3 linked regions of the Homo sapiens genome follow. The protein of the gene in region 2 purifies or fractionates together with the protein of the main gene of each other region. This does not show direct contact. Each region holds a gene or a part of one and is shown on either strand. Other genes may lie near its edges.

Region 1 (3,650 bases), on a different chromosome or scaffold from region 2:
TAATGGTGGGGGACCCTCAGTCTCGGCTGGATCACAATGCAATCTAGGAGCCCAGGGCCCTGACCCTTTCTCCCCCCGGCCTTTGTCTCTCCGCAGAGTGCATCTCCCTCGCCCCCTGAGAGTCTCGTGGAGGAGGAGCGACCGAGTGGCCCTGGTGGTGGCGGGAAGCAGAGAGCAGATGAGAAGGAGCCATCAGGACCTTATGTGAGTGGGGGCAGGTGCAGGACTGGGATGGGCGTGCATGGCCCAGACCAGCCTGGCCCCTCAGAGCCTTCCAGAGCCCAGCTCTGGCCATAATTCTCTCACTCCGGAGCCTCCCATAGCTCCCTACTACTCAGAGTACTGACCAATCAGAGGAGATCCTGTAATGCAAGGCTTAACTCCAGTTGCTTGAAGTCTCTGCGGCCTCTTGGCCGTACAGCCATTTTCCCACCCTCTAGCTTTTGCTCCAGCTGTTTTCTTTCCCTAGAACACACATGTTTTAGAAACCCATTTTTCTATCAAGAAACAAAGTGCCACCTCCTACAAGAAGCCTTCCCTGACCACCTCCTAGAGGCTGGGACCTCCTCTCATTGCCAGACGGCTGCACACTTGTAGTTTCCAACTCTAGCATCCCAGGGGCCAGGCCGAATGTGGGGAATGGGGCTGTGGCCAGCTGGGGAGCCCCTTCTCCCACCTACAGGGGCAGCTGCAACTTGATCCCCGGAGACTGGCAGGCTCAGGGTGGGCCAATATTGCTGTTTCTCAGAGAAGCCTTAAATCTTCCTTTTTACCTAATAGCTTTTTTTTTTTTTTTTTGGCAATGAATTTTATTTATTTATTTATTTATTTATTAAGGTGGAGTCTTATTTTCTTTGGCAATGAATTTTATTTATTTATTTATTAAGGCGGAGTCTTTATGAAGGCGGTAAGGATGATTGCTGGTCTCTGGCTCTCCCCTCACCATGCAGAGGGGTAAACTGAGGCCTGAGAGGGCCGGGAGTCACACAGGGCACTCATGTAGTCCACATCCTTCAAAGTCCTCTCCACAAGGTGCCCACCTGCCCTGCCTCCCCACATCCTTCCCGGATGCGGGCACGTGCAGCCTTCCCTTCTGCTATGAGCAAACGGGTGCAGTGGTCTGAGAATCCCAGTCATGCCCCAGGGCTGGCTGGGCTCATGCCTCCAACTCCTGAGGAGCGGATAGGGGGTGTGGAGGCAGGGGCATGACCACAATGAGCTCTCTCCCCCATCTTCCCCCAGGAAAGCGACGAAGACAAGAGTGATTACAATCTGGTGGTGGACGAGGTGAGTCCAGGGGTCCAGCCTCTTCCCCGACTCTGGGCACAGAGCAAGGGGTGGGTTTTCTGGACTGGGAGGACCCAGAGGTAGTGGGGATCCTGGTTCCCCGCTCTGTGGGACAGCTGGGATGGGGTCAGGAAGCGTCAGGGACTCCGGGACACCTCTGGCCGACCTCCTCTCCACTGCACAGGGAGTGACTTCAAGCCCAGGTTCACTGAGTGATTTGTGGGCAGTGACACCCCCTTCCCTGGCCTCACTTTTCCCCATCTGTTCAATGGGAAAATAAAACCAAGCCTTTATATAGTCCTCGCTATGGGTGCTTATGGAGTAGAGCCTATCATTAAACCCATTTTACAGGCCGGGCGTGGTGGCTCACACCTGTGATCCCAGCACTTTGGGAGGCTGAGGCGAATGGATCACTTGAGGTCAGGAGTTTGAGACCAGCCTGACCAACATGGTGAAACCTTGTCTCTACTAAAAATACAAAAAAATTAGCTGGATGTGCTCGCTTGAACCCAGGAGGCGGAGGTTGCAGTGGGCCATTACTCCAGCCTGGGTAACGGAGCGAGACTCAAAAAAAAAAAAAATACATTTTACAGATGAGTAAACTGAGGCAGCAGAAGATTTCATAATCTTCCCATGGTGGGTCATGGGTACCCATTCTAGAGATTGGGGTGGGAGTCGGGAGGAGGATAGAGAAGGGACTCTTCTTTCCCTCTCATTTCAACTCTGCTCAACGTCACCTCCTCAAACCCAGGACCAACCCTCAGAGCCCCCCAGCCCGGCTACCACCCCCTGCGGAAAGGTACCCATCTGCATTCCTGCCCGTCGGGACCTGGTGGACAGTCCAGCCTCCTTGGCCTCTAGCCTTGGCTCACCGCTGCCTAGAGCCAAGGAGCTCATCCTGGTAAGGAGGAGGGGAGGGCCTTGAAACTCACTTTATTCATCCCGGGGGCCCCGAAGCAGACGCTACCCCATGATGCAGAGGGCAGTGATGAGAAATCAGCCAGCCGGGCTGGCATTGTCCACCCTTTCCCTGTGCTTTTTTTTTTAAACCTCCTGCTTGGACTGACTTTGTTGAACCTCAGTAAATATTAAAAGGCAACTTTGTAAAGAAGCTTTGTAGATAAATTTTAAAAGGCAATTCACTACCTTACATGGAAAGCAGGTCTCTCTCTTGCAATCAATAGGAAATCCCATGGAAATAAACATAGTGAAAGCCCAGCCAGCTAGGCTGGACTCAGGCCTGCATGTGTTGAGCCCTTCCAGAGGCGCTTAGAGACACACCGGCCCCAAGCTGAGATGTTGTCCCCGGAAGGAAAGATAATTAATATAGGAACAAGTTTTCAGTTGGACCTCCTGGAGTTTAATGCCAGGCATGTGAGCCATCTAAAAGCACCCCCAGGGCATTAGAAATTCAGCTCCTTTTGCAGCTCCCCTCACCCCAAATCTTCTCCAGACCCCTCCCCTACACTTACCAGGGAAGAGTATGTCGGTTTCTAGGCCTCCCCTCCCGGTTTCAAGGCCTCCCTTCCTGGCAGGTTACCATGGCAACCGCCAGAGGTTGGGGCTCCCATTCCATCTTAAGTGCCCACCTCCCACTGCGGGAAAAACCTTACAAGGGGATGGGTCAGCTCCGTTGTATTGGAGAAGCCCTCAGGGGTCCTCCCTGACCCCACAGTCGTCCCATCCACTCTCTCGCGGGTGCCGGTGTTGCGTGGCTGTCACTGTTTGTGCGATGGTGTCATGGGAAGCCGAGACAGACGCAAGACAAGGATGCGAAGTTTCTTGGGAGGCAGGGGAGGCAGGGGAGGCGATGACATGAAGCCGAGATAACAGAGCCTGCCCCTAGATGGAGGTCCAGCTGCTGCTTTCCTCAGAGCTCTCCTTGGGGAGGGACAGCTCTGGGTGACACCTCCCTCTCTGTGGGGGCTCAAGGAGGATTGCAGTGTGTGCTAGGCACTCTTCCTTCACCTGGGAATATGCCGCTGTGGGGTCTGCCTCTCCACGAGCCCATCCCGGAGTTTCTAATTCCTTGTTGTTCAAGAATCTCAACAGTGGCTGGGTGCTGTGGCTCATCCCTGTCATCCCAGGGCTTTGGGAGGCCAAGGCAGGACGATCACTCGAGAACAGGAGTTGGAGACCAGCCTGGGCAACATAGTGAGACCTTGTCTCTATGAAAAATTTAAAAAGTTAGCCGGGCATGGAGTCGTGTGCCTGTAGTGCCAGCTACTTGGGAGGCTCAGTCGGGAGGATCACTCGAGCATGGGAGGTTGAGGCTGCAGTGAGCTATGATCGTGCCTTTTGTTTGTTTTTCGTTTTGGAGATGGAGTCTCGCTCTGTCACCCAGGGAGGAGTGTGGTGGCGCA
Region 2 (3,650 bases):
AGTGAGACTCTGTCTCAAAAAAAAAAAAAAAAGTTTTATTGGAAATTATTTAAGAACACAGTGAAATTATCATGCGTAAAAAATGGATGTTAAAAATGGGTATTAAGGCCGGGCGCGGTGGCTCACGCCTGTAATCCCAGCACTTTGGGGGGCCGAAGCAGGTGGATCACGAGGTCAGGAGATTGAGACCATCCTGGCTAACACGGTGAAACCCCGTCTCTACTAAAAAAATATATAAAAAATTAGCCAGGCGTGGTGGCGGGCGCCTGTAGTCCCAGCTACTCAGGAAGCTGAGGCAGGAGAATGGCATGAACCCGGGAGGTGGAGTTTGCAGTGAGCCGAGACCGCACCATTGCACTCCAGCCTGGGTGACAGAGCGAGACTCTGTCTCAAAAAACAAAACAAAACAAAAAAACAACAAGAAAAAAAAACAGGTATTAAAATGTTTATGGTCCCAGCCTTGTGCTACAGATGTATGCATGTTTGTGAAAGGATGACAGGGAACTTAACAAAGGGTAAGAGTGATTACAGCTATGCAGTAGGATTCAATATTTCAAACTTTTCTGCTCTTTCTCCCTTTCCCCAGTTTTTTAAAATGACTATGCACAATTCTATAACTGGGAAAAAAATCACTACGCATTAGAGGGAGCCACACTGACCATGAGAGAAGCCTGGACTCAGCACTCCACAGGCCTGCTTCAGGAAGCTCTGGACCTCCCCATTCCTGCAGCTGCCCCTTCCCAGCAGGGCGACCTTCCTGAGAAGTACTGACTTCCTCTGGTTCAAAGCCAAGTCTCTCTGGTTTCCAGGTCTGCTTAGACACCCTTGGGGACTAGAACCCAGTTCATTTATTTGTCCAAACATGACAAACAATAAGATGGAAGCCACAGTTCCAAGCTCAAGGAGCTCAGAGCCCGGTCAATAGATGGATTAGGAGACAGTGTGGGTGTAGCACAGCTGAGGTACATGCACATGTGACAGGAGGGCCTGGCCCAGGTTGCAGGGGGCAGGGGAGTAAGGTGGGGGTGAAGGCTGGTTCCTGGCGGCCAAGAGGCAAATGCAGTGGCAGAAAGGCATGAACATGGCCATTCACTATGGCCCTTTACAGTGTGAGGTCAGGTCTTGCTCACCAAGCTAAAGGGGCTGGATTTTATCCTCAAGGCAGTGGGGAGCCACTGAATGATTTTAAGTTGGGTGGAGGCTGGGCATGGTGGCTCCCGCCTGTAATCCCAGCACTTTGGGAGGCCAAGGTGTATGGATCACCTGAAGTCAGGAGTTTGAGACCAGCCCGGGCAACATGGTGAAACCCCGTCTCTAATCAGCTGGGTGTGGTGGCGGGAGCCTGTAACCCCAGCTACTCGGGAGGCTGAGGCAGGAGAATTGCTTGAACTGGGAAGGTGGGGGCTGCAGTGAGCCGAGATCACGCCACTGCACTCCAGCCTGGGTGACAGAACAAAACTCCTTCTCAAAAAAAAAAAAAAAAGTCGAGTAGAGACCCACTAATGTCACTCTAAGCCTCCAAAAGTCTCTCCAGCTGTGGGGGTAGAGAGCAGACCTGAGGGGGCAAGATGGGAAGTCGAGATGCCAGATAGGAGTGATCTGAAGCTGTGAGACAAGAGTGAATATGGGCTCAGTCCAAGAGGGGGCTGGAAATGAGAGGGAGAGAATGAAGCAGGTCTGGGGAGCCTTAGGATGGACTCAGTAACCCATTAGGTTCCTGAGGAAGAGAGGAGTCGAGGCTGAGTCCTCGGGCGCCGTGTACTTGCTGGGCATTGGTCAGGGCAGAGCACAGGTGGAAAATCCATGTCAGCTGGGCATGGGTGGCTGTGGTGATGCTGGCCAACAGTCAGCTGGCTATGTTCTCTGTTGAGATCACAGCACTGCGTGTGGAACAGGGAGAAGAGAGGGGGCAACCCTGGAGGATGACAGCCCTGATTGAGGGAAGGGAGTGGGAAACAGCCAGTGAGGGGTGACGTGAAGGACAAGGGAGGGAAAGGAGGCTGTCATTGGTGGTCTCAGCCCAGCAGAGGCCAGGCAGGCTGGGAACTGGGGGGCCACTGGGGCCTCTGCTGGAACCACCTGGTGAGCCCGTAAGGGGAGGCCCCCACCCCAGGGTCTCCAGCACCTGCCTGGCTCCCCATAGATACTCAACAAATGTGACCGAGGAAGGAATCGAAGGGTAGGGGGTAAAGGGGTGCCCACGGCCCCCTCCCTGGGCCTCAAGTAAGGGAGCAGTGCCCCAGGTACCAGACCCATCCAGCCCTGGAGGGGAAGCATGTGCAGGGCTAAAGGTGGCGGCCAGACCCTCAGGACCAAGGTCGGGTGCTGTCCGTTGGAGGGTCTGCCTCAGACCCCCTGCTAGAGGAGTCCCGGGGTAGATGGAGCCTCCTCTGGCTCAGGGAACACCTAAAGCAGCCTGGAGCATTTGCTGAGAGACAGCGCCACCTAGTGGGCAGGAGGTGCACGCCAGGCCATTACCCACAGGCTCCAGGCCTTTGGGGTTCATTATGGCAGTCTCTGCACCCTGCTCTGGCCCCCGCATCCTGCCCCAGTCCCTGGAGACAACAATCCAGGGCTTCTTCCACCTAAGCAGTGTCTGAGCCTCTGACAGCAGGATCCTGCAGCATCAGCTGAGATTGGCTCTGCGATGGAGAAGGTGGGCAGGTGAGATTTTAACAGAGATCCATTTGCCCACATGGCACAGGCAGATGCAGGGTCCTGCCCTCACATGGGTAAGCCCAGTATGGGACTGGGCTGATTGCAGTTCTGCTGTTATTGTTGTTGTGTTTGTTTGTGGTGTCGTTAGGCTCGCAAAGAAAATAAATATGCTTATGAAACTCTTCCAGACATGGCTGACCCCTCCCCTCTCCACTCCCAGTCCACAGAATTCTCAGAACCTCCTGCAGCTCAGGTCTGTGTGGCTCAGGCCCCGGCAGCCAGGTTAGAGGTATCTTTATGGAGGTAGGGGCAGTCCACAGGGCGCCCCAGCAGCAGGGAGTGACTCCCACCACCTATTCCGCAACGATTCCCTGGGGTCTTCCCTGGCTCCAGCTTCAGCTCCAGAAGACCCCTCCCCGGAGAAAGAAGTAGCTGTGGACAGACACCACCCACCCAGAAGGGCCTGGACTCCACGGCCCACACAGTTGGTCACAGCTGCCAGCTTGCTCCTACTGCTCAGCAGTTTCAGGGCAAGGTCAACAGCTAAGTGGGGTCACTGACCTTCCTCAACAACTTGGCAGAGCTCATTTTTATTCTTAACTGTGGGTTCGGCTAGGCAAGAGTTCTCCTAAAAATATTTTTTTTAACTTTCCCTTATGACAAAGAAACAAATGTACAATGTTAAAATATTAGTTTTACAAAAATGTGTGACTTGGAAAGTTAAAGTTTCTTATATAGTCCTATCCCCTAACAATTATTATTATTATTATTTTTTGAGACAGAGTCTAGCTCTGTTGCCCAGGCTGGAGTAAAGTGGTGTGATCTTGGCTCATCGCAAGCTCCGCCTCCCAGATTCAAGCGGTTCTCCTGCCTTAATCTCCCAAGTAGCTGGGTAGCTGGGACTACTGGCACCTGCCACCATGCTCAGCTAATTTTTGTATTTTTAATAGAGACAGGATGTTGCCATGTTGGCCAGGCTGGTCTTGAACTCC
Region 3 (3,650 bases), on a different chromosome or scaffold from region 2:
TGTTATTCCTGTTGTCTCATGTCCCTGTTTTCCCTTTTCACTCCTTTTCATTTCCCTTTCTTTTCTCTCTCTCTCTTTTTTTTTCTTTTGAGACAGAGTCTCACTCTGTCGCCTTAAGCCAGAACGCAGTGGCACAGTCACAGCTCACAGCAGCCTCTACCTCCAGGGCTCAAACAATCCTCCTACCTCAGCCCCTGAGTAGCTGGGACTACAGACATGTGTGCCACACCTGCCTGGCTAATTCTTCCTATTTTTCACAGAGACAGCATCTCACTTTGTTGCCCAGGCTGATCTCAAACTCCTGGGCTCAAGTGATCCTCCCACCTTGGCCTCCCAAAGTGCTGGGATTATAGACATGGGCCACCATGCCTGGCCAGTTTCCCTTTCTTTAACTTCTGTCAAATCTAAGCTGCAAACAGAATGAGACAGAAACAGCATTTGGAGAGCACTTTCAAGATAAAATGGTTCTAATGATGTTGTCTCGTGAGTCCTGGGTATAAGTTGAGTCTTCCAGGATTACGTTAGCCCCAGAAAAGGCTTATTGTGCTTATTGGGACCATGCCCACCTCACATAAACATCTTTCAGACTTTTATAAACATCTGGGGCCTCTTCAGAAAGACTGCTAAAGCTTCGATCTTTCGTTCCTTCTCAGAAAAGGAATCTCTTTGCGTTCTTTGACATGGCCTACCAAGGCTTTGCCAGTGGTGATGGTGATAAGGATGCCTGGGCTGTGCGCCACTTCATCGAACAGGGCATTAATGTTTGCCTCTGCCAATCATATGCCAAGAACATGGGCTTATATGGTAAGCTACAGCATCCAGCATGACACATGCTCTCATGCTGGGAGAGAATGCCACGAGGGCATAGAGCTTGTGGGTGTGTGTGTGTGTGTGTGTGTGTGTGTGTCCATCCATGTCCATGTCCCTCCCTACCCTAAGATGAAAGACCAGTATCGTAGATTTTACTGATTTTCTTAGCCATATATTCTTCGGTGTCCTTAAGTTTTTCCAGCAAAGGAAACTGATTACTGCTTCTCTAAACAAAAAGTAACAAATCCGTGAGCCAAGAAGATAGATACAATAAAAAATACCTTTGAATACTCTGAGTACTCAAAACTTCCTTGTGCCTCAGTTCACCACTCTGGTTGTTGAAAGCTTTTTATTTATAATAAAGTTATTTTGGGGTCCTTTGGATGGAAACAGATAATACGTAGCAAATACACTCATGATTTGCTTTAGCACATTAGATAGTAGAAGTAGAAGACGAGATCCATTTTTGTCTTTCAGGTGAGCGTGTAGGAGCCTTCACTATGGTCTGCAAAGATGCGGATGAAGCCAAAAGGGTAGAGTCACAGTTGAAGATCTTGATCCGTCCCATGTATTCCAACCCTCCCCTCAATGGGGCCCGGATTGCTGCTGCCATTCTGAACACCCCAGATTTGCGAAAACAATGGTAAAGGTTTATGCCACTCCCCAGCCACCTACCTGTTCCCACCACTGCTCCTTCAAAGTTAGTTTTTAATTGACCTCTAGTGATATACAGTACCCCATAGATTCCATATGTGGAAGGCAGGGAAGGAAGCAAAAAATGTGCATTCCTTTTTTAAAAAATTAAGGCCGGGCACAGTGGCTCACGCCTGTAATCGCAGCACTTTGGGAGGCCGAGGCAGGTGGATCACCTGAGGTCGGGAGTTCGAGACCAGCCTGACCAACATGGAGAAACCCCGTCTCTACTGAAAATACAAAATTAGCCGGATGTGGTGGTGCATGCCTGTAATCCCAGCTACTCGGGAGGATGAGGCAGGAGAATTACTTGAACCTGGGAGGCGAAGGCTGCAGTGAGCCGAGATTGCGCCATTGCACTCCAGCCTGGGCAACAAGAGCAAAACTCCGTCTCAATCTATATATATAGATAGATAGATAGATTGGTTGAGACAGGGTCTTGCTCTGTCACCCAGTCTGGAGTGCAGTGTTGCAATCCTAACTCACTGTAACTTTGTACTCCTGGCCTCAAGCAGTCCTCCAGCCTCAGCCTCCCGAGTATTTGTTAGCACTTTGAACCAAGTTAATTGATATTTCTCTGTAAGAGGCAGTCATAATTTTTAAATGGTAGTTCCTTTTATTCCGTCATCTCCGTGTTAAGTAGAACCTGCTTTCCCCTAAAATCAGTTTCAAATTAAGTACCTTACATAGGAAAACTTCCTTAAAAACATCATATTTTTGTTTGTGTCCTAATAATTGCTAGCATTGAATCCGTATTTTTGCATATGTTTGTATTTTATTGTAGAGACAGGGTCTTGCTGTCTTGCCCAGGCTGGTCTCCTCAAACTCCTGGGCTCAAATGATCCTCCCACCACAGACTCCCTAAGTGCTGGGATTGCAGGTGTGAGCCACTGCACTCAGCTTGTTTTTTATTATCTGTACTATCTGACTCTCAACATCTGTTCTCTGAATTAGTGTTACTAAATTTTTTTGACCACAATCCACATAAGAAATATATTTAAGTCTGGGCACAGTGGCTCACACCTGTAATCCCAACACTTTGGGAGGCTGAGGTGGAAAGATCGTTTGAGACAAGCCTGGGCAACATACTGAAACCCCATCTATAAAATTTTAAAAATATATATTTTACATCATGACCTTGAACATATTATATACTTATATGTGTATATAACTGAAACTGTCTTCCAGACTCAATACTAAAGGCTTCATGTGCTTTACTCGAGTTTTTTGTTTTGTTTTGTTTTTTGTTTTTTTTTAAACAGTCTTGCTGTGTCACCCAGGCTAGAGTGCAGTGGCACAATCACTGCAACCTCCACCTCCTAGGCTCTAGCAATTCTCGTGCCTCAGCCTCCCGAGTAGCTGGGATCACAGGTGTGCACAACGAGACCCAGCTAATTTTTTTTTTTTTTTTTGAGACGGAGTCTCGCTCTGTCGCCCAGGCTGGAGTGCAGTGGCGGGATCTCGGCTCACTGCAAGCTCCGCCTCCCGGGTTCACGCCATTCTCCTGCCTCAGCCTCCCAAGTACCTGGGACTACAGGCGCCCGCCACTACGCCCGGCTAATTTTTTGTATTTTTAGTAGAGACGGGGTTTCGCCATGTTGGCCAGGCTGTTCTCAAACTCCTGGCATCAAGTGAACCACCTGCCTCGGCCTCCCAAAGTGCTAGGATTACAGGCGTGAGCCACCAAGCCCAGCCTCCACTCCAATATTTTCTAAATGCCAACTGCATCTTACTAAGTTGAATTTAACATACTAAGCCAGGTAAGGTGGCTCACACCTATAATCCCAGCATGCATTTTGGGAGGCCAAGGCAGGTGGATCCCTTGAACCCAGGAGTTGGAGACCAGCCTGGGCAACATAGCAAGACTGTGTCTCTATTAAAATAAAAGAAAATAAAAAAATAAAAAATAAAAAAATTAACCTACCAATGGGTCATGACACATAATTTAGAAAACACTGCTGTAGAAAGGGGTTGGCAAACTGTTCTGAGAGTCAATCCAGTTTGCCCCCTATTCTTGTAAATAAAGTTTTATTGGAACACAGCTGTACCCATTTGTTTATGAATTTTGTATAGCTACTTCTTTGCTGCCATGGCCGAGTGAGCAGTTGTAGAAGGCAGAGACCATATGGCCTATAAAGCCTAAAATA

What was found.
Region 1: the proteins of CTNNBIP1 (region 2) and TLE2 purify together in Homo sapiens (co-immunoprecipitation; one large-scale study listed by IntAct). This does not show direct contact.
Region 3: the proteins of CTNNBIP1 (region 2) and GOT2 purify together in Homo sapiens (affinity purification with mass spectrometry; one large-scale study listed by BioGRID and IntAct). This does not show direct contact.

What each region holds. Positions count from the first base shown.
Region 1 is NC_000019.10:3,012,207-3,015,856, reverse strand, and holds part of TLE2 (transducin-like enhancer protein 2), read left to right. Parts: intron 1-96; coding exon 97-204; intron 205-1,242; coding exon 1,243-1,287; intron 1,288-2,038; coding exon 2,039-2,188; intron 2,189-3,650.
Region 2 is NC_000001.11:9,865,213-9,868,862, forward strand, and holds part of CTNNBIP1 (beta-catenin-interacting protein 1), read right to left. Parts: intron 1-3,650. UniProt on the Homo sapiens protein: Prevents the interaction between CTNNB1 and TCF family members, and acts as a negative regulator of the Wnt signaling pathway.
Region 3 is NC_000016.10:58,713,817-58,717,466, reverse strand, and holds part of GOT2 (aspartate aminotransferase, mitochondrial isoform 1 precursor), read left to right. Parts: intron 1-653; coding exon 654-804; intron 805-1,287; coding exon 1,288-1,453; intron 1,454-3,650. UniProt on the Homo sapiens protein: Catalyzes the irreversible transamination of the L-tryptophan metabolite L-kynurenine to form kynurenic acid (KA). As a member of the malate-aspartate shuttle, it has a key role in the intracellular NAD(H) redox balance.